7 linked regions of the Homo sapiens genome follow. The protein of the gene in region 1 purifies or fractionates together with the protein of each later gene. This does not show direct contact. Each region holds a gene or a part of one and is shown in the gene's direction. Other genes may lie near its edges.

What was found.
Region 2: the proteins of NPLOC4 (region 1) and PDE12 fractionate together in Homo sapiens (co-fractionation; one large-scale study listed by BioGRID). This does not show direct contact.
Region 3: the proteins of NPLOC4 (region 1) and E2F3 purify together in Homo sapiens (pull-down; one large-scale study listed by IntAct). This does not show direct contact.
Region 4: the proteins of NPLOC4 (region 1) and POLH purify together in Homo sapiens (affinity purification with western blotting, with the first as the bait; one study listed by BioGRID). This does not show direct contact.
Region 5: the proteins of NPLOC4 (region 1) and FAF2 purify together in Homo sapiens (affinity purification with mass spectrometry; 3 studies listed by BioGRID and IntAct, with this or other methods). This does not show direct contact.
Region 6: the proteins of NPLOC4 (region 1) and PICALM fractionate together in Homo sapiens (co-fractionation; one large-scale study listed by BioGRID). This does not show direct contact.
Region 7: the proteins of NPLOC4 (region 1) and TMEM129 purify together in Homo sapiens (co-immunoprecipitation; one large-scale study listed by IntAct). This does not show direct contact.

Annotation. Positions count from the first base shown.
Region 1 is NC_000017.11:81,567,545-81,571,131, reverse strand, and holds part of NPLOC4 (nuclear protein localization protein 4 homolog), read left to right. Parts: intron 1-2,020; coding exon 2,021-2,116; intron 2,117-3,587. UniProt on the Homo sapiens protein: The ternary complex containing UFD1, VCP and NPLOC4 binds ubiquitinated proteins and is necessary for the export of misfolded proteins from the ER to the cytoplasm, where they are degraded by the proteasome.
Region 2 is NC_000003.12:57,562,713-57,566,299, forward strand, and holds part of PDE12 (2',5'-phosphodiesterase 12 isoform 1 precursor), read left to right. Parts: 3' UTR 1-3,587. UniProt on the Homo sapiens protein: Enzyme that cleaves 2',5'-phosphodiester bond linking adenosines of the 5'-triphosphorylated oligoadenylates, triphosphorylated oligoadenylates referred as 2-5A modulates the 2-5A system. Degrades triphosphorylated 2-5A to produce AMP and ATP.
Region 3 is NC_000006.12:20,481,850-20,485,436, forward strand, and holds part of E2F3 (transcription factor E2F3), read left to right. Parts: intron 1-912; coding exon 913-1,071; coding exon of another isoform or gene 1,072-1,100; intron 1,101-3,587.
Region 4 is NC_000006.12:43,579,168-43,582,754, forward strand, and holds part of POLH (DNA polymerase eta), read left to right. Parts: intron 1-3,148; 5' UTR 3,149-3,152; coding exon 3,153-3,289; intron 3,290-3,587. UniProt on the Homo sapiens protein: DNA polymerase specifically involved in the DNA repair by translesion synthesis (TLS). Due to low processivity on both damaged and normal DNA, cooperates with the heterotetrameric (REV3L, REV7, POLD2 and POLD3) POLZ complex for complete bypass of DNA lesions.
Region 5 is NC_000005.10:176,454,798-176,458,384, forward strand, and holds part of FAF2 (FAS-associated factor 2), read left to right. Parts: exon of another isoform or gene 1-200; intron 201-3,587. UniProt on the Homo sapiens protein: Plays an important role in endoplasmic reticulum-associated degradation (ERAD) that mediates ubiquitin-dependent degradation of misfolded endoplasmic reticulum proteins.
Region 6 is NC_000011.10:85,958,828-85,961,119, reverse strand, and holds part of PICALM (phosphatidylinositol-binding clathrin assembly protein), read left to right. Parts: intron 1-342; coding exon of another isoform or gene 343-435; exon of another isoform or gene 436-445; intron 446-2,059; coding exon 2,060-2,074; 3' UTR 2,075-2,292. UniProt on the Homo sapiens protein: Cytoplasmic adapter protein that plays a critical role in clathrin-mediated endocytosis which is important in processes such as internalization of cell receptors, synaptic transmission or removal of apoptotic cells.
Region 7 is NC_000004.12:1,715,429-1,718,387, reverse strand, and holds the end of TMEM129 (E3 ubiquitin-protein ligase TM129), read left to right. Parts: coding exon 1-236; intron 237-712; coding exon 713-872; intron 873-959; coding exon 960-1,208; 3' UTR 1,209-2,436; downstream 2,437-2,959.

The DNA of each region.
Region 1 (3,587 bases):
ATTCCAACTGACAGCTCCCGAGAACATATTTATTACCTAGGCCGTGAAGGCATCTGGTTTTTAGACTACCTAGGGTGTAATTAAGATGAAAACAGATTGATGGAGCATGCACCCAGGAGGAGCAGGCATGATTTAAAACCAGCTTTCTCAGGTCTTCTACCCCAAGCAGCCTCCCCACTTCTTTCCTCTTCTTTTATAAAGGAAGTTAAGTTTTTGCCTTAGTGCAGTTTTTCAGAAGTACTTGTTTGTGGGAGAGCATTCTGCTCTGTGATGCCCAGGCTCCTTGACCCTGTGGAAGTGAGGCATGGGGAGTCCTTGAGAGCAGGTGCCCAGAGAGGTGTGTCAAGCTCCATGCCCAGCCCTGGGCCACAGGCGCTGGCCTCAGCCAAGGTTCTTAAACCTTGGGATGGGATGGCTGGGCAGGCAGGAAAAGGCACCAGCCAGTGTTACTGGGGTTTCTTTGTGGGTTCTGGGGGCATCATCTGGCTGATAGACGATGGGTAGGGTAGGGAAATGGCTTCAGTGTAAGATGGGAGCTGATGCCCTTCCTTGGGACATCTGGGATGGGCTGTGTGGACTTTGGTTCTGTTCCCCTCCAAGGGCCAGTTACAAGGCCAGCAAGAGCCCCCGTCAGTCCCACTAGCTCACTCACTAGCACGTGTTCTGGGGGTGCCGCCTTCTTCATTTCTAGGCCTTCCCAAGGGACGCGCCTGAGCAGGCCAGGCTTTTGTCTCTGCAGGAGGTCAGCACCTCCCCTGTCTTCAGCTGGGACCCAGCACTGTGTGTACCAACACTATGTGTACCAGCCCCGTGCTGGGCACCCAGGAGGCGAGTACTCCGATCATCTTCATCCTGAGGAAGAGTAAAGTGAGGCCCAGGATCCCTAACTGACGAGGCCATGTAGCCGACACGTGGCACCGCGGCCCGAGTCTTCATGACCCACCCCGCCGCTTGCCCATGAAGGGCCAGCTCAGGCCAGAGATGCTGCTGGTGGCTCAGCTGTCCTTCCACAGCGGCTGGCGCTGGCACAGCAAATCCTGGGCCAGCTAGCTCAACAACTCACTGCCTTTGCTGATGCAGAAAACAGACCAGAACCACACTCATTCTTTAGAAATAGTCCCAAAGGAACCAGAATAGTTCCCCTAAATCTGGAAGAGGTGTGACCTCTGCTGCTGCTGTTGTGTTGCAGAGAAAAGCAGCATCAACTCAACTCGGTGCTGCTTTGGGGAGGGGTGTCTGTCACGAAGAATAAAAGTGGTATTTCTATTGATTCTTGCACATTTACCACTGTCCCTGTAGCATCTATTGATTATATCTTAGGTGCAAAGTGCCCTCTGTTGTCATTAAGGCCTGTCTGAGCCAGTGAAGGACTGAAGGACTTAGCTGGCCTTTGGGTATCAGCTCTGAGGGAGAGAGAAGAGCTGAACCCTGTGTTCCTCAAGGGCCTTACATTCACCCCTGCCTGGAAAAGCCCACAGCTCCGTGGAGTGGCTCCCAGCATTCAGAAGGGGCTTAGTGAGCTGCTGAAGGGTGCTTTGTGTCTTGAAAGCTGGCTGATTGCTCATTTGCCCTCCGAATCCAATGACACGAATCTCTCTTGAGCAAAGTCAGCTCCTGGGGCGGCCTCCTGGCCCTTCCGTTCCTTTCCTGTCACCTGGCCAAGGGGCCAAACCAGCCTTTCGTTCCTCCATAGCAGAGGGAGAGAACCTGTGTGACTCTGAAGGGAAGCTGTGCCACGAGGGGAGTCCCAGTGCCCTTTTTGTCCGACGTCGAGGCCGGTGCACAGGCCGGAGGCTGCCCGGATATGGTGTAGTTTGTCTCCAGGATGGCGGAGTTTCCAAGTGTTCGTTTAGAGATGACACTAATAGATAACGGTTCCCTTTGATGGAGAGCTTGTAGAACATTCTCAGAATTGCTAGGAGTCGTTAATTTGGGCTCTGGGAGATGCTCTGGGCTGGCTGGGAGTCGGCCACACCATTTTCAGCCTCATTTATCATGGGTTTGTGTTTTTCTTCATTAGATCACAACAACTTTCCCCAAGGATCCAGTTTACACTTTTTCTATTTCGCAAAATCCATTTCCTATTGAAAACCGGGATGTATTGGGTGAGACACAGGTGAGCTCTTTGTCTTTAGAAACATAATTTAAGGTAACTGCTGATTGTTATCTAGTGTCAGTATTGTTTTTCCAGAAAACATCAAGCTTTCAAATGCTCCCGATTCATTCTTGTGACAGGCCAGCTAGGGCCTACTGTGGGGCACTGCTGGTCACGTGGACGCCCTTCCCATGGCTAGGTGATGGACGGCCACAAAGGCTAATCCCCTGACGTCCTGACTGGCCACATCTTCAGTGGACCTCGTAATTTTCCCAAATGTGTTGCTTTGTGTCTTCTGCCAGCAGCCTCGTCACTGTTGGTTTGGCCTGGCCCCTGCCTGGTCACCTGCTGCCCTTCTTAGGCACCTTGGGGCTGTGTGGCCCCTCTCGGCCTGGCCTCGGCTTTCCCGTGTGTAGTGTTGATCTGCTGCTTAGCGTGGCTCCCGTGTTGGCCTCTGCTCTCACTGGCAGATCAGGCCAGGTCCGATTTGCTGTCACGCCTGCATACTGTGTAGACAGGCTGTGTACACATGGTTGTTCTTAAATCATAACTTGCTAACAGACATTTCAGAAGGTGGTCAAAGAATGTCTATAATGAGGTTTTCTTCAGTGGCTGACAAAGCTTCTTCTATGCTTTGATCCCCTCAGTGCCCATCCGCCCAGGGGACTTGGGGTGCTCACAGAGGTGCAAAGCCAGTTATTGGGGTGCACTCTTGAAGCTCTGTGTTTGGTTCTGCTGAAGATGTCCGTGCTGCATCACGGCTGCCCTGCACATTCCTCCCTCTTGCTGCCCTAGATGGAGAATACAGCTCGACAGGAAAAGTCAGACCTGTCTCCCTGCCGTGAAGGGGGCCCCAGGCCCCTCCCGCAGCCCACTCTCCACCGGGGGACCAGGGCGCATTTCCATGTTTGTGTCTCTGTCTGAGTCAGCCTTTTTTTTTTTTTTTTTTTTTTTTTGGAAGACAGAGTCTCACTCTATCACCCAGGCTGGAGTGCAGTGGTGCGATCTTGGCTCACTACAACCTCCACCTCCTGGGTTCAAGCGATTCTTCTGCTTCAGCCTCCTGAGTAGCTGGGATTATAGGTGCGCGCCACCAAGCCTGGGTAATTTTTTTTGTATTTTTAGTAGAGACGGGGTTTCGCCATGTTGGCCAGACTGGTCTCGAACTCCTGACCACCTGCCTGCCTCGGCCTCCTAAAAAGTGCTGGAATTACTGTGTTAGCCTCCACACCTGGCCAGTCTGAGTCAGCTTTATAAGCATGTCTCCTTGCACATCTGGGTAGTCAGGTGTGCTGAGAGCATCTTCTTGGGAGAAGAGAGCAAGAGCTTGCTTTGCAGCTGCCTGCTCCTCTTTCTTGGACCCTGTTCGTGGTTGCAGAGGCAGAGGGAGAGGTGTCTCAGCATTCAGTGTATTGAGTTGCGTCTTAGTAGGAAACAGCTCTGTTTCGGGGTCTGGCACTGGGGAACTGTATGGAACATTCATGTTTATTCC
Region 2 (3,587 bases), on another chromosome or scaffold:
TTATTCTGTTAAAATGAACTCTTGCACAGTTGCCGCTACAGCAAATGTGTCTGCCAATAATCAAAATTCATGAGCAAACAATCGTTTCTGGCTGTAATGTATGTTCTTTTTGAAATTCTGTATGCTAAAATCAGTTGTTTCAAAATTTCAAGAATTCCACTGAGTAGTGATTTTTCTGAGTACTAAGCTATGATCTCATCAGAATGTGCTGGTTTCAGTCTGGAGATAGATTTCTGAGGAGCCTAATACAAGGGAGAGAATGTCCAAAGAACACTACTGTGGAAAGTTCTTACGATGGAAATTGACATCTTTTGTATCTCATTCTCCAGCCGTGAAATAAAGGCAGAGGTTCCCTGCAAACTAGTTTGGTTGGGATAAATCCAATATTTATATATAATGAAAAATAAAAGTTTGCATTATTAGTTTATCACAAGACCCATGTGACAACTCAGAAAATATTCTCAGCATAATTTTTTTAAGAGATAGAGTCTCACTGTTACCCAGGCTGGAGTGCAGTGGTGCAGTCATAACTTACTACAGCCTCAAACTGCGGGGCTCAAATGATCCTCCTGCCTCAGCGTCCCAAGTAGTTGAGATTACAAGCCCAACCTTCCATAACTGAAAACTAACTTTCTTTTTTTCTTTTTTTATTATTATACTTTAAGTTCTAGTGTACATGTGCCCAACGTGCAGATTTGTTACATAGGTATACATGTGCCATGTTGGTTTGCTGCACCCGTTAACTCGTCATTTACATTAGGTATTTCTCCTAATGCTATCCCTCCCCCAGCCCTGAAAATGAATTTTTTAAACACAAATAAAAAATATTTCAGTGTTTTGAGAATTTTAATAATTTGCTTAATATAGTACAGGAAGGCAACACTATCTAGAGGGCCAGGCATAGTGGCTCTTGACTGTAATCACAACATTTTGGGAGGCTGAGGCAGGAGGATCACTTGAGCTGAGGAGTTCAAGACCAGCCTTGGCAACATTGTGAGACCCTATCTCTGCAAAAAATAAAATTAACCAGGCATGGTGGTGCATGCCTGTAGTCCCAGCTGCTCAGGAGGCTGAGGCCAGAGGATCACTTGAGCCCATGAGGTCAAGCCTGCAGTGAGTTGTGATCAAGGTGCGCTGCACTCCAGCCTGGGTAATAGAGCAAGACCCTGTCTTCAAAAAACCACTCTAGATTTCATGTTGTAGGGGGTAGGGAGGACAATTTTTAACAGCTTTAACTGACATGGGTAATATATAAGTTCTGTGTTCTCACTTTATATGAAAGTACTTTTTTAAATGTTAAAAATACTAGAGCTGTATTAACTTCGTGATTTTATTTTTCTTCTTAGCACTAACTTCAAAATAACCATACAGTACTGCTTGTAATTTTTGTATTTTTAGTAGAGACAGGGTTTCACCATATTGGCCAGGCTGGTCTTGAACTCCTGAACTCAAGTGATCTGCCTGCCTCAGCCTCTGAAAGTGCTGGGATTACAGGCATGAGCCACGGTACCCGGCCTAAATTTTAATTTTATATATAAATGGCAAAATAATCTTAAATATAGTAAATCTGTTCACCTATCTGCTATGCTAGCAAATTCTGGGTTGTCAAAAATCCATGTTCATACTGTCAGTGTTAGATTTTTACTCATAATTTAAAATTTCCCCGCAAAATTTCACAGAAAACTGAATTATTCATCTCTATCTTCTGTCCAATTTATGTAATGAATGTATGTCAAAGCATTTATATAACACAGTCCATTTTGCCCAGTAATTCACTTTAATGATGTTATCATGAAGTATTGATGTACTTTTTTTTTAGTGTATTGAAGTATTCCTAGGTTGCATTTGTGCTAGTTTCATACCATTTGTGTTCCTTATATATTGAAGATGGTTCAGTAGGGGAAATGGATAGGCTTTATTTAGTTGGCTTTCTTATACTGGATAATATAAACACTTTTTTTTTCTTTTTTGAGACAGGGTCTGGCTTTGTCACCCAGGCTTGGAGGGCACTGGTGCCATCACGGCTTACTGCAACCTCCACCTCCTGGGCTTATGCAATCCTCCCACCACAGCCTCCCCAAATAGCTGGGACTACAGGTGCGCACCGCCACACCTGGCTAATTTTTGTATATTTTATAGGCAAAAAAAAAAAAAAAAATGGTTTCACCATGTTGCCCAGGCTGGTCTTGAAATTCTCAGTTCAAGCAGTCCACCCACCTCGGCCTCCCAAAGTGCTGATATTACAGACATGAGCCACCCCACCCAGTCAGCACACATTTTTTTTTTTTTTAAATAAGACAGGGTGTTGCTGTTGCCCAGGCTGGAGCGCAGTGGCATGATCATAGCTCACTGCAGCATCAAACTCCAGGGCTTAAGCGATCCTCCCACCTCAGCCTCCTGAGTAGCTGGGACTATAGGTGCATGCCACCATGCCTGGCTAATTTTTTAAATTGTTTGTAGAGATGGGGGTCTCTCTATGTTGCCCAGACTGGTCTTAAACTCCTGGGCTCAAATGACTCTCCCGCTTCAGCCTCCCAAAGTACTGGGATTATAGGTGTGAGCCAGCACACATAGCCCTTTTTTTAAAAAAATTAAAAACAAATTTTTTCTCCAGAAAAAAACATATTTATCAACTTTTAAAAACATTTTATGGGTACATAGTAGGTGTATATATTTATGTGGGACATATTTCTTTTGATAGAGTAAATTGAGTATTCATCACATCAAGCATTCATTTGTGTTACGAACATTCCAATTGTACTCTCTCAGTTATTCTAAAATGTGATATACACACTTTTAAAAGGATTTATTGCGCTGGGCGCGGTGGCTCACGCCTGTAATCCCAGCACTCTGGGAGGCTGAGGCCGGTGGATCATGAGGTCAGATCGAGACCATCCTGGCCAACATGGTGAAACCCTGTCTCTACTAAAAATACAAAAATTAGCTGGGCATGGTGGCGCGCGCCTGTAGTCTCAGCTGCTTGGGGAGGCTGAGGCAGGAGAATCACTTGAACCCGGGAGGCAGAGGTTGCAGTGAGCCGAGATCACGCCATTGCACTCCAGCCTGGCAACAAAGCGGGACTCTGTCTCAAAAATAAAATAAAATAAAATTTTAAAAAAAGGATTTATTGCATATAATTCTTATATCCCCTGTGGAATAGTTTGGAGAAATGGTACATCCAAAGATAAAATCAGTTAGAAATAAACAGTGGCCTTCCTCAGAAAAGCTGGGCTATAGTGTTTTGGGTATCTTAAACCAAGAAAGGGTATTTCTATCCCAGCTGTAGAGTTTTTAATAATTCTATTATAAATAATGGAATCAGGCCAGCACAGTGGCTCACGTCACATAATCCCACTCTCCTTAAGAGCTTTTTTTGTCACTGCATATCAACTCAGTTGACAAGGACTGGCCCCCAAAAGAAGCTGCATACTCACTTGGCAGTCACTCCCCATTCTCCCTAGCTCCTGGCAACAACTTAACCTGTCTCTGTGGATTTGCCTATTCTGGACATTTCATATAAATTGAATCATAATTTATGTAGTCTTTTGTGACTGGCTTCTTTTACTTAGGATGTTTTTAAGGTTCTT
Region 3 (3,587 bases), on another chromosome or scaffold:
GTTACAGAATATCTTTATCCATGGTTCTAATAGCAGATTAACTCACTTTCTGGGTAAATTAAGGCAAGACTTAAATGCCTCCATTTCGTCTGTAGAGCAGGGATGGTAGCATGATACTTATACAGCCACACGTATGATTACATATGTAATATATTTTGTGAATTTTAGAGCATCTAAATAGCCACTATAAGCACAGTATTGAATTATTAAAGCATTTTGGAAGGAATAATTCTGTTACAGGAGGGCTTTGAAAAGATACTAATTCAGATGGAAGATGAATACATACCTTTTTTTGCACATTTTGGAATTTTGTTGACAGTTTGGTAACCCGTTTTGGCCTCTGGTTTAGAGAAACATATTGTGCACTAGTCTCAGTTCTTGCATACATCACATACATCTGTTTCCTTTACTTTCTTTTCTTTTTAGTTGTTGATATAAGACCCTCAGTAATTACCTGAGTTTTTGATGCTTTTTTGGATGGGTTGTTTTTTTGTTTTTTTTTTTTTTTAATTTTGAACCATTCCATCTTCTCTGTCTTTCTCTATCTTTTTATCCTTTTTCGCCTTTCTTCCCCCACCACCTGGGAGCCATGAGGCAAGGGAGGAAGGTGGTTGCCTTCTTTTGCCCTCTGAATTTGAACCTTCTGAAGAAGTAGACCTCCCCTGGAGGAAAGAATCCTGAAAATAGCAGTGCGCTTTCACTAAATTTCTATGCTGTGAAAAGTGCAGAACTGTATTTATGAAAAAAAAAATATATATATATATATATATATGTGTAAATGTTCTAATTTTAACACTTGGCTAACAAGCAATGTGACCTCCTATGTCAAGAGGAGACATTTACCCAAAGGATCATTTCTCCTTCCCCTCCCTCCCATGAGTAGCCATGAAGAGTCTGTGTTTGGGTTTCTAGGGGCTGCAGTCTGTCTGAGGATGGGGGCATGCTGGCCCAGTGTCAAGGCCTGTCAAAAGAAGTGACCGAGCTCAGTCAGGAAGAGAAGAAATTAGATGAACTGATCCAAAGCTGCACCCTGGACCTCAAACTGTTAACCGAGGATTCAGAGAATCAAAGATATCCTTTGTGCCGCCAGTTCTCTGGGGGTTAGTGCTTCCTAGACTATTTCCAGAGTTGACAATCTGACTTATGCACAAGGTAGATTATTATTCTGATGTCATGCAAATGAGTACCTGTGTGCCTGTGTGTGTATGTGTGTGTGTGTGCACGTGTGTGTGTAAACCCAGTTAGCTTTGCCTAAAAAGTCAGTATTTATGGTAAGATAGTCACCAACTCGATCCTATTATTATCTATTTTGATACCAGGTGGGAACTGTTTTTTAAAGCATTTTTTCATGTGTGGTTGAGACATGGGTATACTCGTAGCGTAAGGCCACACTATTAAAAGATACATAAGGTGTCGGTATTAATATTAATGACAACACTAAGCAGATTCGTCTTTGGCTTCCCAGATTTTTGGTGGGTGTTAGCTGTCACTGTTGGGGTTCTCACATTCTATTTTCTTCTCACCAGATATCGTAGCAATTGAAATTGGTTGAATCTATCTGATTGGGCTATAGTTGAAGGGTTTGAAAGAGTAGAGAAAAATCATACTATAACTCTTAAAGTGCATTCTGCTGATTCCCAATGAAAAAACTGATTTCAAAAGCACCCCAAGACCTGAGAAACCCCTCTCAATTCCTCTGTTCCACTACAAACATTAGTCCTCGCAAATAAAAATACAAAAGGTCAGTTCTTGTTCTCAACTTCCTGACAATCTATTGACGATCTCAGGAAAACTTGCTCTTCATCATCTCACTACAGACAAAGTAAGAGAGAGATTGCCTCATTATGTCAAACAAGACTTGCCAATATTCTCAGTTATTAGAAGACAAAAAACAGTACTGTAAGTTATCCCATCTCTAGTTTTAGTTCCAAACTTCTGATGATTGCACATTTACCATTATTTGACAAAAACTAAAAAGTGTTCTGCCCAGATTCTTCTAGTGTCTCATCTTTAACAGGCTCCCCCTTGGAGAATATGGAGATATTTATTTTCTTCCAATGTTGGCAGTTTTTCAAACCTGCAATTGTTCATTTCCTGTTGACCAAAGAATTAACCTTGTCAGCCGATAATTAGTGAGATGGAAGAGAGGCGTAGTGATTTGGACCCCCAGTGGTTGGCAGAGTGGGTTTACAGGGGAAGAAACCAACAGTTGGGCTGTTTCATTCATTGTTTGGTTGGGAGCCCCATTGTGGAAGAGATGGGTGGTTACATGTGATTGGCAGCCTTCCGGGACATGTGGCTTATGGCATTGTCACCTATATTAGCTCTCTCTGGGGCCTTTGTTGCAGAAAATGAAAGCTTCCTTGCAGGGAACTTCGAACCCAAGGAGTAAATTCAGGAGGGAGCCACAAAGGAAGCACTTTTAAGTTTGTAAGATTAGAAAATACATTTGCACAATTTATTTCAGTTCACCATTCAGTTCCCAAATTGGTACAGCTTGTTCACAAATGTGTTGAAATTTTCCTTCCTGCAGCATGTTGAGTAATCGTAGATGAGTTTTTCTTTTACACTTGATCTTAGCCAAAAGGCCAAGAAGTGATGAGTTTTTATTTTAATAAGTTCTTGTCATACAGCTTTTTGACAGTGAGCTGTAGTGTAAGTACCTGGTTGTCAGTTTTTTCCAGTGTTCTCAGTAAAAAATCAGAACTGCCTGGCCCTCTATAAAGGCATCCGTTGACTTCTTTGATGGGTTATGTAGTGACCTAAAACCCAGAATCCTGCAAGAGCAGCCACTACAAGCTCAACACTGAATTAGCCATCATCTCAACTGTAAAGATTTGAAGGAGATAGTCTGTGATAGATCCCCTACATGTGTATGCAGATTTCGTGTGAATGTGCTTTCTTTCTGGAGTAGTAGTTCCATAGCTGCATTCAGTTTCTAATAAGAAGCTACTACAGCCAGGCACGGTGGCTCATGCCTGTAATCCCAGCTACTCGGGAGGCTGAGGCAGGAGAATCACTTGAACCTGGGAGACAGAGGTGGCAGTGAGCTGAAATCGTGCCACTGCACTCCAGCCTTAGTGACAGAGTGGGAGTCCGTCTCAAAAAAAAAAAAAAAAAGAAGCTACTATCGTAAGGGACATGATTTATTCTAGGGTCTCTAAGCCCCCCCTTTTTTTTATATTAAACATATTAGATCACGGACTCTATTAGCCATTAAATACGTTATACTACCTGCTGAAATGCCTTCATTGGTTTGTTACTTGCTGTTTTATCCTAGGAATTTTTTGTGGGTACATATAAAAAATAATAACGGGCTAAAGACATTGTACATTAATTGAATACTTTTGTCATATCGTAAGTACCATATTCTTTCATGATAGCCTTTTAGGCTTGGCTGTCAGGACATTTAAAAGAATGGTTCAGTGCTTAGAAAAAATGACCAAGGCCGGGCGCCGTGGCTCACACCTGTAATCCCAGCACTTTGGGAGGCCGGAGGCAGGCAGATCACTTGAGTCCAGGAGTTCAAGACCAGCCTGGGCAACAGGGTAAAACCCCATCTCTACTAAAAATAAAAAAAATTAGCC
Region 4 (3,587 bases), on another chromosome or scaffold:
GCCTTCTGCCCTCCTTTCACCTGCCCAAAGCAGGACTCTAATCTTCCCCTGCCTTTCTGATTATGGGTCATAAGACTTTCATTTCAGAAGAGTTCCTACCCCATACCCTGGAGAAAGGAATGCTACCCAGAGAGGCCAGGAAGAATCTGGACAGGCCTTGCTGGGTTTCCCCAGTCTATTAGTATTAGATCATATCTTTTTTGTCCAGTCACATTTCTACACGGATGTCAGTCATGCCTATCCAATGAAGTTTCCATAAAAGGCCCAAGAGGAGAGGGTTCGAAGAGCTGCTGGATAGGAGCAAAAGGAAGTTCCTGGAGAGTGGTGTTCCCAGGGAGGGCATGCCTTGCCATGTGTATCTCTTCATCTGTATATCCTTTATAATAAACTAGTAAATTTGATTACCTGAGTTCTGTGAGCCACTCTGGCAAATTAACTGAACCCAAAGAGGGGCTCATGAGATTCCCAATTTATATCCAGTCAGTTAGAAGCACAGGTAAAACAACCTGTGGCTTGTGATTGGCATCAGAAGTAGGGGGCAGTCTTGTGGGACTGAGCCATCAACCTGTGAGATCTGACGCTTTCTCCAGGTAGATAATGTCAGACTCGAATTGGAGGATACCCACTTGGTGTCTGCTGCAGAATTGATTGCTTGTTTGTTGGTGGGGAGAAATCCTCACACATTTGGTCACAGAAGTCTACCTTATTGATTGTTGTTGAGTGAAAGAATCTTTTTTTTTTTTTTTTAAATTTATTTTTTTATTGATAATTCTTGGGTGTTTCTCACAGAGGGGGATTTGGCAGGGTCATGGGACAATAGTGGAGGGAAGGTCAGCAGATAAACAAGTGAACAAAGGTCTCTGGTTTTCCTAGGCAGAGGACCCTGCGGCCTTCCGCAGTGTTTGTGTCCCTGATTACTTGAGATCAGGGATTGGTGATGACTCTTAACGAGCATGCTGCCTTCAAGCATCTGTTTAACAAAGCACATCTTACACCGCCCTTAATCCATTTAACCCTGAGTGGACACAGCACATGTTTCAGAGAGCACAGGGTTGGGGGTAAGGTCACAGATCAACAGGATCCCAAGGCAGAGGAATTTTTCTTAGTGCAGAACAAAATGAAAAGTCTCCCATGTCTACTTCTTTCTACACAGACACGGCAACCATCCGATTTCTCAATCTTTTCCCCACCTTTCCCGCCTTTCTATTCCACAAAGCCGCCATTGTCATCATGGCCCGTTCTCAATGAGCTGTTGGGCACACCTCCCAGACGGGGTGGTGGCCGGGCAGAGGGGCTCCTCACTTCCCAGTAGGGGCGGCCGGGCAGAGGCGCCCCTCACCTCCCGGACGGGGCGGCTGGCCGGGCGGGGGGCTGACCCCCCAACCTCCCTCCCGGACGGGGCGGCTGGCCGGGCAGAGGGGCTCCTCACTTCCCAGTAGGGGCGGCCGGGCAGAGGCGCCCCTCACCTCCCGGACGGGGCGGCTGGCCGGGCAGGGGGGCTGACCCCCCCACCTCCCTCCCGGACTGGGCGGCTGGCCGGGCGGGGGGCCGACACCCCCACCTCCCTCCCGGACGGGGCGGCTGGCCGGGCGGGGGGCCGACCCCCCCACCTCCCTCCCGGACTGGGCGGCTGGCCGGGCAGAGGGGCTCCTCACTTCCCAGTAGGGGCGGCCGGGCAGAGGCGCCCCTCACCTCCCAGACGGGGCGGCTGGCCGGGCGGAGGGCTGACCCCCCCACCTCCCTCCCGGACGGCACGGCTGGCCAGGCGGGGGGCTGACCCCCCCACCTCCCTCCCGGATGGGGCGGCTGGCCGGGCGGGGGGCTGACCCCCCCCCACCTCCCTCCCGGACGGGGTGGCTGCCGGGCGGAGACGCTCCTCACTTCCCAGATGGGGTGGCTGCCGGGCGGAGAGGCTCCTCACTTCTCAGACGGGGCAGCTGCCGGGCGGAGGGGCTCCTCACTTCTCAGACGGGGTGGTTGCCAGGCAGAGGGTCTCCTCACTTCTCAGACGGGGCAGCCGGGCAGAGACGCTCCTCACCTCCCAGACGGGGTCTCGGCAGGGCAGAGGCGCTCCTCACATCCCAGATGGGGCGGCGGGGCAGAGGCGCTCCCCACATCTCAGACGATGGGCGGGCGGGCAGAGACGCTCCTCACTTCCTAGATGTGATGGCGGCTGGGAAGAGGCGCTCCTCACTTCCTAGATGGGATGGCGGCCGGGCGGAGACGCTCCTCACTTTCCAGACTGGGCAGCCAGGCAGAGGGGCTCCTCACATCCCAGACGATGGGCGGCCAGGCAGAGACACTCCTCACTTCCCAGACGGGGTGGCGGCCGGGCAGAGGCTGCAATCTCGGCACTTTGGGAGGCCAAGGCAGGCGGCTGCTCCTTGCCCTCGGGCCCGCGGGGCCCGTCCGCTCCTCCAGCCGCTGCCTCCCGGGCGGCGCTCGCCGGCGCGGCGGCAAAGACTGAGACAGCTCTGCTGCCCGCTGAACTCCATCCTCCCGGCGGTCGGGCGGCGGCGGCTGCGGTCGGTCGCGGCAGCGGCTCCGCTTCATATCTGCAGCTGGGGCCCGCGGGCGTCAGCGCCGCGACTGTCCCGGCTCCGCACTGCCCCGGGCCGCAGCGCAGCCGCGCCAACCACCACCCGCGGCCACCATGGCCGGACGGGCTCCCTAAGCCACCGACCCCAGCCCGCGGCGCCTTCGAGCCTTCTAGGGCCTCCGGCGCCGCGACCTCCTCTCAAGATCGAGTGAAAGAATCTTAAAAACTGTTTTTTCCACTCAGGGTATCCCTAATCTGAAATTTGAAATCTTCCAAAATCCAAAAAATTTTTTGCACCAACACAGCATTCAAAGGAAATGTTTATTAGAGCATTGTAGGTTTAGGATTTTTGGATTACGGATGCTTAACTGGTGATTATAATGCAAATATTGCAAAATTTGAAAAAAATGCAAAATCTCAAGCACTTTGGATCCCAGCCATTTCAGATAAGGGATACTCAACCTGTATATTTAAATGCCTATTTCATTCTTGTTAGTTTCCATGCTCCCATGCTCATGGTAACTCATCAGTGAAAGAATGGAATTACAGTTTTCCCTGGCATTTTGGATTAGGTGTTTTTCTAACTGTCCATAAAATGTTGTGTTACAGAAAAATGGCTACTGGACAGGATCGAGTGGTTGCTCTCGTGGACATGGACTGTTTTTTTGTTCAAGTGGAGCAGCGGCAAAATCCTCATTTGAGGAATAAACCTTGTGCAGTTGTACAGTACAAATCATGGAAGGGTGGTGGGTATGTATCATTGTTATTGTCACAACTATTCAATGGTAACACAGTGGCACTGTGGCAGGTCCTTTGTTGTTGTGGTGGTGGTGGTGGTGGTGACAGGGCCTTTCTCTGTTGTCCCATCCAGAGCGCAGTGGCACCATCAGCTCACAGCAGCTTTGACCTGGGCTCAAGTGATCATCCCTCTTCAGTCTCCCAAATAGTTAGAACTACAGGAGCGCCCCACCATGCCAAGCTGATTTTATTTTTTGGGGGGTGGGTAGAGATGGGGATTGGTTGGGGGGGCAGGGCTCACTATATTGCC
Region 5 (3,587 bases), on another chromosome or scaffold:
GAGCAGATATCCTCCTTTTCCTAAACTCTATTCTGTAATATGTTCAAGCATTTCTGCAAACTCTACTCTGTAATGCACTCAAGTGTCTCACCAGTCAAGTTGTATTCCTGACAAGAGGCAGTTATATTTGCTCCCAAACTAGTGTGTGCTGGTTATGTTTGTCACATGTGTTTAATTAAACACTACATAAACCTGTAAAATACCAGTGCAAAAAGAGTTTTCATCGATACGAAAACTAAATTAAAAGCTTTAAACAGGCTCTGTCTGGGGAAATTGCTAAAAAAAAAAATTGTTGTTTAGTTAGGTGTGGGCAAGTTAACTGTAAATGACTTAGGGAGAAATCATTGAGATACAACATTGTACACTTACTGCTTGGCAAGTGTTTAAGGTTGCACTACACTTAAGGAAATCAAATCAGTATGGGTTATGCTAAAAAGATCCCAGCCTGGGCAACATGGTGAAACCTCATCTCTACTAAAACTACAACAAAAAAATTAGCTGGTCGTAGTGGCGCATGCCTGTGGGCCTGTGATCCCAGCTACTTGGGAGACTGAGGTGGGAGCATCACCTTAGCCTAGGAGGTGAAGGCTGCAGTGGGCTGTGATTGCACCACTGCACTCCAGCCTGGGTGACAGAGTGAGACCCTGTCTCAAAAAAAAAAGTAAAAAATAGCCAGGCACAGTGGTGCACGCCTGTAATCCCAGCACTTTGGGAGGCTGAGGTGGGCAGATCACCTGAGGCCAGGAGTTTGAGACCAGCCTGGCCAACATGGTGAAACCCCATCTCTACTAAAATACAAAAATTAGCCAGATTTGGTGGCGGGTGCCTGTAATCCTAGCTACTCAGGAGGCTGAGGCAGGAGAATTGCTTGAACCTGGGAGGCAGAGGTTGCAGTGAGCCAAGGTCGCACTAGTGCACTCCAGCCTGGGTGACAGAGTGAGACTCCCTCTCAAAAAACTAAAAATAAAAACTAAAGAAGTTCCAAGGAGTGCTAGTGGATTCATTCCCTAAAGAAAACGATAGGCTTTTATCAGAAACTTATGTTCATGTGAGTACTTTATGTTAAAATGAAATATTTACATAAATATTCATTTATGTAAAAATGAAAACATGTAAAATGTTAAAATGAATATTTTTATTACTTTGACTTCAGTTAATTGATTAGTTATGGGTCTCATTCTCATTGGGTAAGAGAACTTCTGTCTTTGTCTTATAGAGATATGATTATATTATACTTAACTCTGCATAGCATAGGTAAGTAGTCATGAAGACTGACTGGGTTTGTTTGATTGAGACAGAGTTTTGCTCTTGTTGCCCAGGCTGCAGTGCAGTGGTGTGATCTCAGCTCACTGCAACCTCCACCTCCTGGGTTCAAGCAATTCTCCTGCCTCAGCCTCCCGAGTAGCTGGGATTACAGGTGTGTGCCACCACACCCGGCTAATTTTTGTATTTTTAGTAGAGATGGGGTTTTGCCATGCTGGCCAGGCTGGTCTTGAATTCCTGACCTGAGGTGATCCGCCTACCTCGGCCTCTCAAAGTGCTGGGATTACAGGCGTGAGCCACCGTGCCCGGCCCAAAATATATTTTTAAAACTTAAAATGAACAACTCAATCAAAAGGTAGGGAAAAGATCAGAACAGACAACTCACCAAAAAAGATATACAGATGGCATGTAAGCATATGAAAAGATGCTCAAATCTTTAAGGATTTGAGGTCCTTAAGGAATTGCAAATTAAAACAGCAATGAAACAGGAACTCTCCTGAGCTCAAGCAGTCCACCCCTTGGCCTCCCAAAGTGCTGGAATTACGGGTGTGAGCCACTGCACCCAGCCTCAACTGGAATTTCTGTTCCACTGGTCTTCCCCTATATATGCCAATATAACACTTAATTATAGAGGCTTATGATATATTTTGATCTGGAGGAACACCCCTGCCTCCACTCTGTTGCTCTTTTTCAGAGTTTTCCTGTTTATTTGCTCCTCTAAAAGAAATTTGAAATCAACTTTTTAAAGTTGAAATTTTATGAAATTTGTAAATGAACTTCAGGGGTTGTAGTTGACATCTTTATGTTGCTGAATCTGTTCAAGAACATAGTTATATCTTGGAAAGGTTTTGACATACTTACTCAGTAGTGTTTGCTGGCCTCCCTTTTTTGGGGTACTTCTTTATTTGACAAGTACAGACACTTATTATCAAGTTGGTTCAAAATGCGTTATTTTTTCAGAGTGGGCTGGGCATCGATATTTATGAACTCCTCTAAGTATTTAAGAGGAATATTTCTGAACCTTGCAAAGTAGTATACATTCTGATTACTCTGAGTAACAGATTACCTTTACAGCAGATAGTCTTTTAGAAGTAGGTCTTTGAGATGGGTATTGATAAAGATTAGTATTTTTTGTTTTGTTTTTTTGAGACGGAGTTTCGCTGTTGTCCCCAGGCTGGAGTGCAATGGCTCAACCTTGGCTCACTACAACCTTTGTCTCCCAGGTTCAAGTGATTCTTCTGCCTCAGCTTCCAGAGTTGCTGGGATTATAGGCGCCCACCACCACTTCTGGCTTATTTTTTTGTATTTTTAGTAGAGACAAGGTTTCACCATGTTGGGCAGGCTGGTCTCGAACTCTTGACCTCAGGTGATCCACCTGCCACAGCCTCCCAAAGTGCTGTGATTACAGGCGTGAGCCACTGTGCCCGGCCATAAACGTTAATTTTGTCATTTTTATTTTGGACCATCTGAGGATTATTTCACATATTCAAGGATTCTAGTTGTCGTTTCTCCAACATTGTATTTTTGCTTAAAATTAGTATCAAAAATGAAATAGTCATAAAACTGATTATTTGATTTGAACTGTTTTCAGGGGTGTGTGTGTGTGTGTGTGTGTTTAATACTACTGTTAGTGAGAGTGCCAGAAGTGATGAATAGCAGAAATCACCGTGAACACTTGGGGGGCCTGTGTGTGGGCCTTGGACTTTTCCACCAAGGAAATTATGAAAACTTTCTCACAGTCCTGGAATAAATTTGAAAGAGAACAATTTTTCATACTAAATACTGGGGAATATTTTTAAATGTGTGTTTGTAAATTCTTATTGGAGTTAAAGTCACAAAAAGTCACAGTCCTTAGTTAACCCTCTTGTCATATGCATTGCCACTGCCTCAGTTTATACTTCATTTCTCCTCTGGACTAAACTTGTATAACTGGTAGCCCACATTTAAAGTCTTCTCAATTCAGCCTTCCTACTTTTTCCAGAATAATATTTCTATTCTCTTTCTCTTCTCTTTTCACTCCTCTTCTCCCTTCTCTTCTCTTCCTTGACAGAGTATCTGTCGCCCAGGCTGGAGTGCAATTGTACAGTCTTGGCTCACTGCAGCCTCCGCCTGCTGGACTCAAGCCATCTTTCCAGCTCCCCTTCTTGCGTAGCTGGGACCACAGGCACGTGCCACCACGCCCAGCTAATTTTTGTATTTTTAGTAGAGATGGGGTTTCGCCATGTTGGCCAGGCTGGTATTGAACTCCTGGCCTTAAGTGATCCACCTGCCTTGGCCTTACAAAGTACTGGGATTACAGGCATGAGCCACCACGTCTGGCCTCA
Region 6 (2,292 bases), on another chromosome or scaffold:
TTATGTATTCCCTCCCCTATCCCCCCACCACCCCCCATACACACATTAAAATTCTTAACCATGGGTCAGCTTATATCGACCTTTTGGGTAAAAGACATTATTCCTTTGAAACTTCAGAAGCACGAGTTTGTTTTCTGAAAAACACATGCCATTGCATACCTTTTAACTTGACATATGACTGAAACTTTTGTCTTAACAATCCATTTTCTACAAAGACTGCCCTTATATTTATTAAAGATGACAAAACCAAAACCACTTCTTCTTTCATACATTTTCTGCTTTCATGTTCTGTCATTCTGAGATCTTTTTTTCTTTCCCTCTCTCTGTCTTCTTTTCCCCCAGCTGTCGGCAGCATCCAGCCCCTCCAGTCACAGTCCTCACAGAGCTTCAGGAAAGGACCCCTTTGCAGAGCTCTCTTTGGAGGATTTCTTATAAATCACTTTAGGTATTGCTACTTGTTTTGGGAGATGGGGACTTAAATACTTAAAAACAATTACCAAACATTAAACACAATTCACGCTTCTCTTTCATTTCTTTAAAGGACTCTAGGCTCCCTCTCCTCCTCCTCCTCTTCCTCTATTCTTTAGGTGCAGAATGAAAAGATAGGACATAAGGAAAAACAACTTTTGGAAAATATCTGTAACATAATTATTTAAAGTAATCTCATCCACTGCTCACAGTAAATGGATGAGATCGGATAAAGTTTGCTTTTTAATTAAGGGCAAGTGAATACTTAAGCCCTTTCGATTAGAAGGATTCTGCATATGATCCACACTGCCTCTGTTTGCTGGAAGACAGTGTAATTTGTTCTTCTTGATGCTCTAGCCCCCAGTTTAGATATACCTTCTAGATCTTTGGGAGTTTATAGTCTTCTGATTTGGCAAGTTTATTAGCACATCTACTTCAGTAATCTTTGGATGGGCAGTTTAAGGGAAATTGTGAGTGAAATATCTTTGAATGAACAGTAGTACCCTATTGAAAAATATTTTTATGGCTCTTTCAGGTTCTTATTTATGTTAATAAAAAGACTTAGTATAATATTACTGTTCCCTTTATTGTCTCTAATTGTATATCATTTGGAAATAATATTTCAAATTTTGCTTCCCAAATGAGATTTTGCTTGTGGTATTTGTGCTTATGGAGAGATTTTTCTGAACTTGTCATGAAAAAATAGGTCATTGATCTTCTTTCTTTTCCTCCTCCACATGCTATTCCTCTATTTTTAGCAGTTAAGTATTTGGCCTGGATGTGGTTGCTTATGCCTGTAATCCCAGCACCCTGGGAGGCTGATGCGGGAGGATCACTTGGGGCTAGTAGTTCAAGATCAGCCTGGGCAATACGGTGAGACCCTAGTCTCTACCCCCACCCAAAAATTACCCAGGTGTGGTGGCGACTGTCTGCAGTCCTAGCTATTCAGGAGGCTGAGGCAGGAGGGTTGCTTGAGCCCAGGAGTTCCAATGAGCTTTTTTTTTTTTTTTTTTTTTTTGAGATGGAGTTTCGCTCTTGTCTCCCAGGCTGGAGTGCAGTGGCACGATCTCAGCTCACTGCAACCTCCACCTCCTGGGTTCAAGCCATTCTCCTGCCTCAGCCTCCCGAGTAGCTAGGATTACAGGCGCCCGCCACCACGCCTGGCTAATTTTTGTATTTTTAGTAGAGACGGGGTTTCACCATATTGGCCAGGCCAGTCTCGAACTCTCGAACTCACCTCAGGTGATCTGCCCACCTCAGCCTCCCAGAGTGCTGGGATTACAGGTGTGAGCTATGGTGCCCAGCCATTGAGCTTTGATCATGCCACTGCAATCCAGCCTAGACAGCAGAGCAAGACTCTGTCTCAAAAACAACAACAAAAAACATTATTTGGAAGTCCCTATATGTGTCAAATATTGAGCTTTCTGGCACATAAGTTGATAATACTGACTTTGTTTTATAAACAGGGTTTGTGATAAGCATGTTGTGAACACTTCTGGGCCAGTTAAATGGTAAAGACCACAAAGCATTTTTATTTATGAGAAGACATCCTACAATACAATGAATTAACATACCCACTTTTTTTTTCCAGATACAGTTTATGTAACTTGATGGAAGAAAATGGAATTACTCCAAAAAGACAAGTGCTCAAGCAGCAAAATCCTTACTTCCAGCAAAATCCAAACTGCTGTCTCTTAAATCTCTTAAACTCTCTTCTTCCATTAGAATGCTACAAGTAACTCAGTGAAGGCCCATGAAGGAAATTGGGACTAGTTTATAGGAGAACGTATCAATACAGTTTATAAAGCCAAGAATTGCTATGAT
Region 7 (2,959 bases), on another chromosome or scaffold:
TTCCGGCGGATTGACAAGTTTGCCACCGGTGCACCAGGTGCCCGTGTGATTGTGACAGACACGTGGGTGATGAAGGTAACCACCTACCGAGTGCACGTGGCCCAGCAGCAGGACGTGCACCTGACTGTGACGGAGTCTCGGCAGCATGAGCTCTCGCCAGACTCGAACTTGCCCGTGCAGCTCCTCACCATCCGTGTGGCCAGCACCAACCCTGCTGTGCAGGCCTTTGACATCTGGTAAGAGTGTGGTGCCTGTGGGGCTGCGGAGGGCACATGGCAGGCCAGAGCCAGGCTCTGGTGCCACGACCCCTGGGAGGTGCTGGGTGTAGCTGGTGTGGACTCCAACACTCCTGGGCTTGTGTGACACCAGGCAAGGTGTCCACAAGACACCAGTCACTGAGCCCTCCCGCATAGCCCTCCCTCGGGTCCCCCTGCACTCTTGGCCTCCCCTTCCACTCCCTGGAGCCACCTCCCCCAGATTCTTGGGGAGCACTCAGGACAGTGCAGCCCTCAGGCTGGACAGCTGCCTTGCTCCTAGGTCCGTCCCGTGCCCAGGCTGGGCTGTCTGGCACTGGGTCCGTGGGCTCTGGCCTTAGGGCCATCTCTCCTGGTTGGTCCTGGTGCGACAGCTGCCCTGTCACTCCTTGGGGTGTAGCCTCCATCTTCCGCTCCCTTTGCCCTGCAGAGGGGCCCAGCAGCTCTCCTCCCTGCAGGCTGAACTCCACTGAGTACGGGGAGCTCTGCGAGAAGCTCCGGGCACCCATCCGCAGGGCAGCCCATGTGGTCATCCACCAGAGCCTGGGCGACCTGTTCCTGGAGACATTTGCCTCCCTGGTAGAGGTCAACCCGGCCTACTCAGTGCCCAGCAGCCAGGTGGGGGGCCTGGGCCAGGGCCGGGTGGATGGGTGGGTGCCCACGGGTGTCTGCCTGGGCTCCTGGTGACGCTCCACCTGCCCGCAGGAGCTGGAGGCCTGCATAGGCTGCATGCAGACACGTGCCAGCGTGAAGCTGGTGAAGACCTGCCAGGAGGCAGCCACAGGCGAGTGCCAGCAGTGTTACTGCCGCCCCATGTGGTGCCTCACCTGCATGGGCAAGTGGTTCGCCAGCCGCCAGGACCCCCTGCGCCCTGACACCTGGCTGGCCAGCCGCGTGCCCTGCCCCACCTGCCGCGCACGCTTCTGCATCCTGGATGTGTGCACCGTGCGCTGAGTGGGCTGGGGCCTTGAGGTGACTCTGTGTCTCCCCCCAAAGCCACAGGGCAGGGAAGGGGGTGGCTGGGCCTCCTGGCTGGCAAAGGGCTCTACTTAAAGCACATGATGTAGAGCAACTCGCCTCTGCCCTGGGTCTGCAGAAGGCTGAGGACTTTTGGTTAAAAGCAATCCTCATGAAAACACCCCACCCTGCTTGGCAGCCAGGGTACAAGTCCTGGGCACCTCCTCTTTGCCTCCCTCCTGCCCCTTTCCTGCTGGTGGGGGCAGATCCTGCACACACAGACACAGCGTCTGCCCCCGAGCCATTCCCTGGAGACCCTGGGTCTACCCCAGGTGGTCGTCATCTGGGCCATTTGCCTTACTTCTCTGGAGCATACCCACCCTCAGTTACGTGCCAGACCTGGACCGCATTCTCCTGCCCTGTCCTGGAGCTGGCCCCTGGCTGCCTGGAGGACCCTGGGTAGGTCCTGAGGGTGGGATGGAGAAGAGGGCACTGCTGTGGTGTGGGAGCAGTCCTGGGGCTTCCTGGTGGCTGTGACCAGTTGAGGGGCTGTTCCTGGGTGGGGTGGCAATGGGAGGACAGGTCAGAGCGCCCTCATTTGTGGGGCTGCCCCTCCGGGTTTCTCATCCTGTCCTTGGTGCCTTTTTCTGCCCAACAAGTCCAGGGAAGGCCGAGGTCTCAGACTCCTGGGTAGGGGTGGGGGTTTGAGTTGAGGACCAAAGTGCCATAGCGACATCCAGAACACAAGCCCACCAGGGGTCCAGCCCAGGCTACCCACTCCCCTAGGGTCTCCCAGGCTCAGAAGGGGATGCACGCCCCCTGTGGTCAAGCCTCTGGTGGGCGTCTTGCCCAGTTCCTGATGGTTCAAGGGGAGGGGGGATGTTGGCCAGGCCCCAGGGCACAGCCCTGACACAGGTGTGGCTACTGGAGGGGCCTTCATACCTGCGGCCCCAAAGCCCCTGGGCTTGGCTGTTTGAGGCAGAGGTGATGGACTCCGGGGGCCTGACACTTGGGATTTGGGAGGCTTCCTAGAGCGCTCAGCAGGTGAAGGCAGCAGGGGCCATGGCCGGGAGCCAGGCCTAGCTTTGAACTGAGTTTCAAGGGCTGCCAAAGAGGGGCAGTGGGTTGGGGTTGTTTTTACTACAAAATAAGTTACTTAGTTTTATAAAGACAAACCGATTGTAGCCAAATGACACCATATTTAATAAAATTTAGTCTGAAGTGATGTACTGTGTTTTGTGTTGCCCGATATTAAAACCAAACTTTTGTCATAGTTGGAGAATGGCCTGTGGGTATTGGAGAAGCCACCTTAGAGGTGGAATTGCGTGCGTGGCGTGCTTTGTTCAGAATAAGGAGGAAAAACCCATTGGTTGGGAGGCGGGTACAGTAGGAACCTTCCCCTCTGATTTCTGGTTAGGGACTCTGGGGTCTTGAGAACCCCTGACCCAGGGCCCTCTGCAGGAGCAGGGTGGGAGGGGCAGAGACACGTCCTGGGGGAAGTCACTGTGTGGTCGCCACTGCGGCTGCTTCCAGATGCAGGAACTGATGTGGGGACACATGGGTAGCCAAGGAGTGAGCAGCCTTTCCGGTTCACTTATGTTTGCAGCTGCGTCCTGTGAGGACACCAGGCTGTCTCTACTGACCTCACTGTGGGTCAGGGTGGCCCAGGAATTGCCAGCCGAGCACCTAGGGCAGCCAAGACAGCAGCCTGGGGTTCCCCACAGCACTGGGCCCTCAGGTGAGCACCC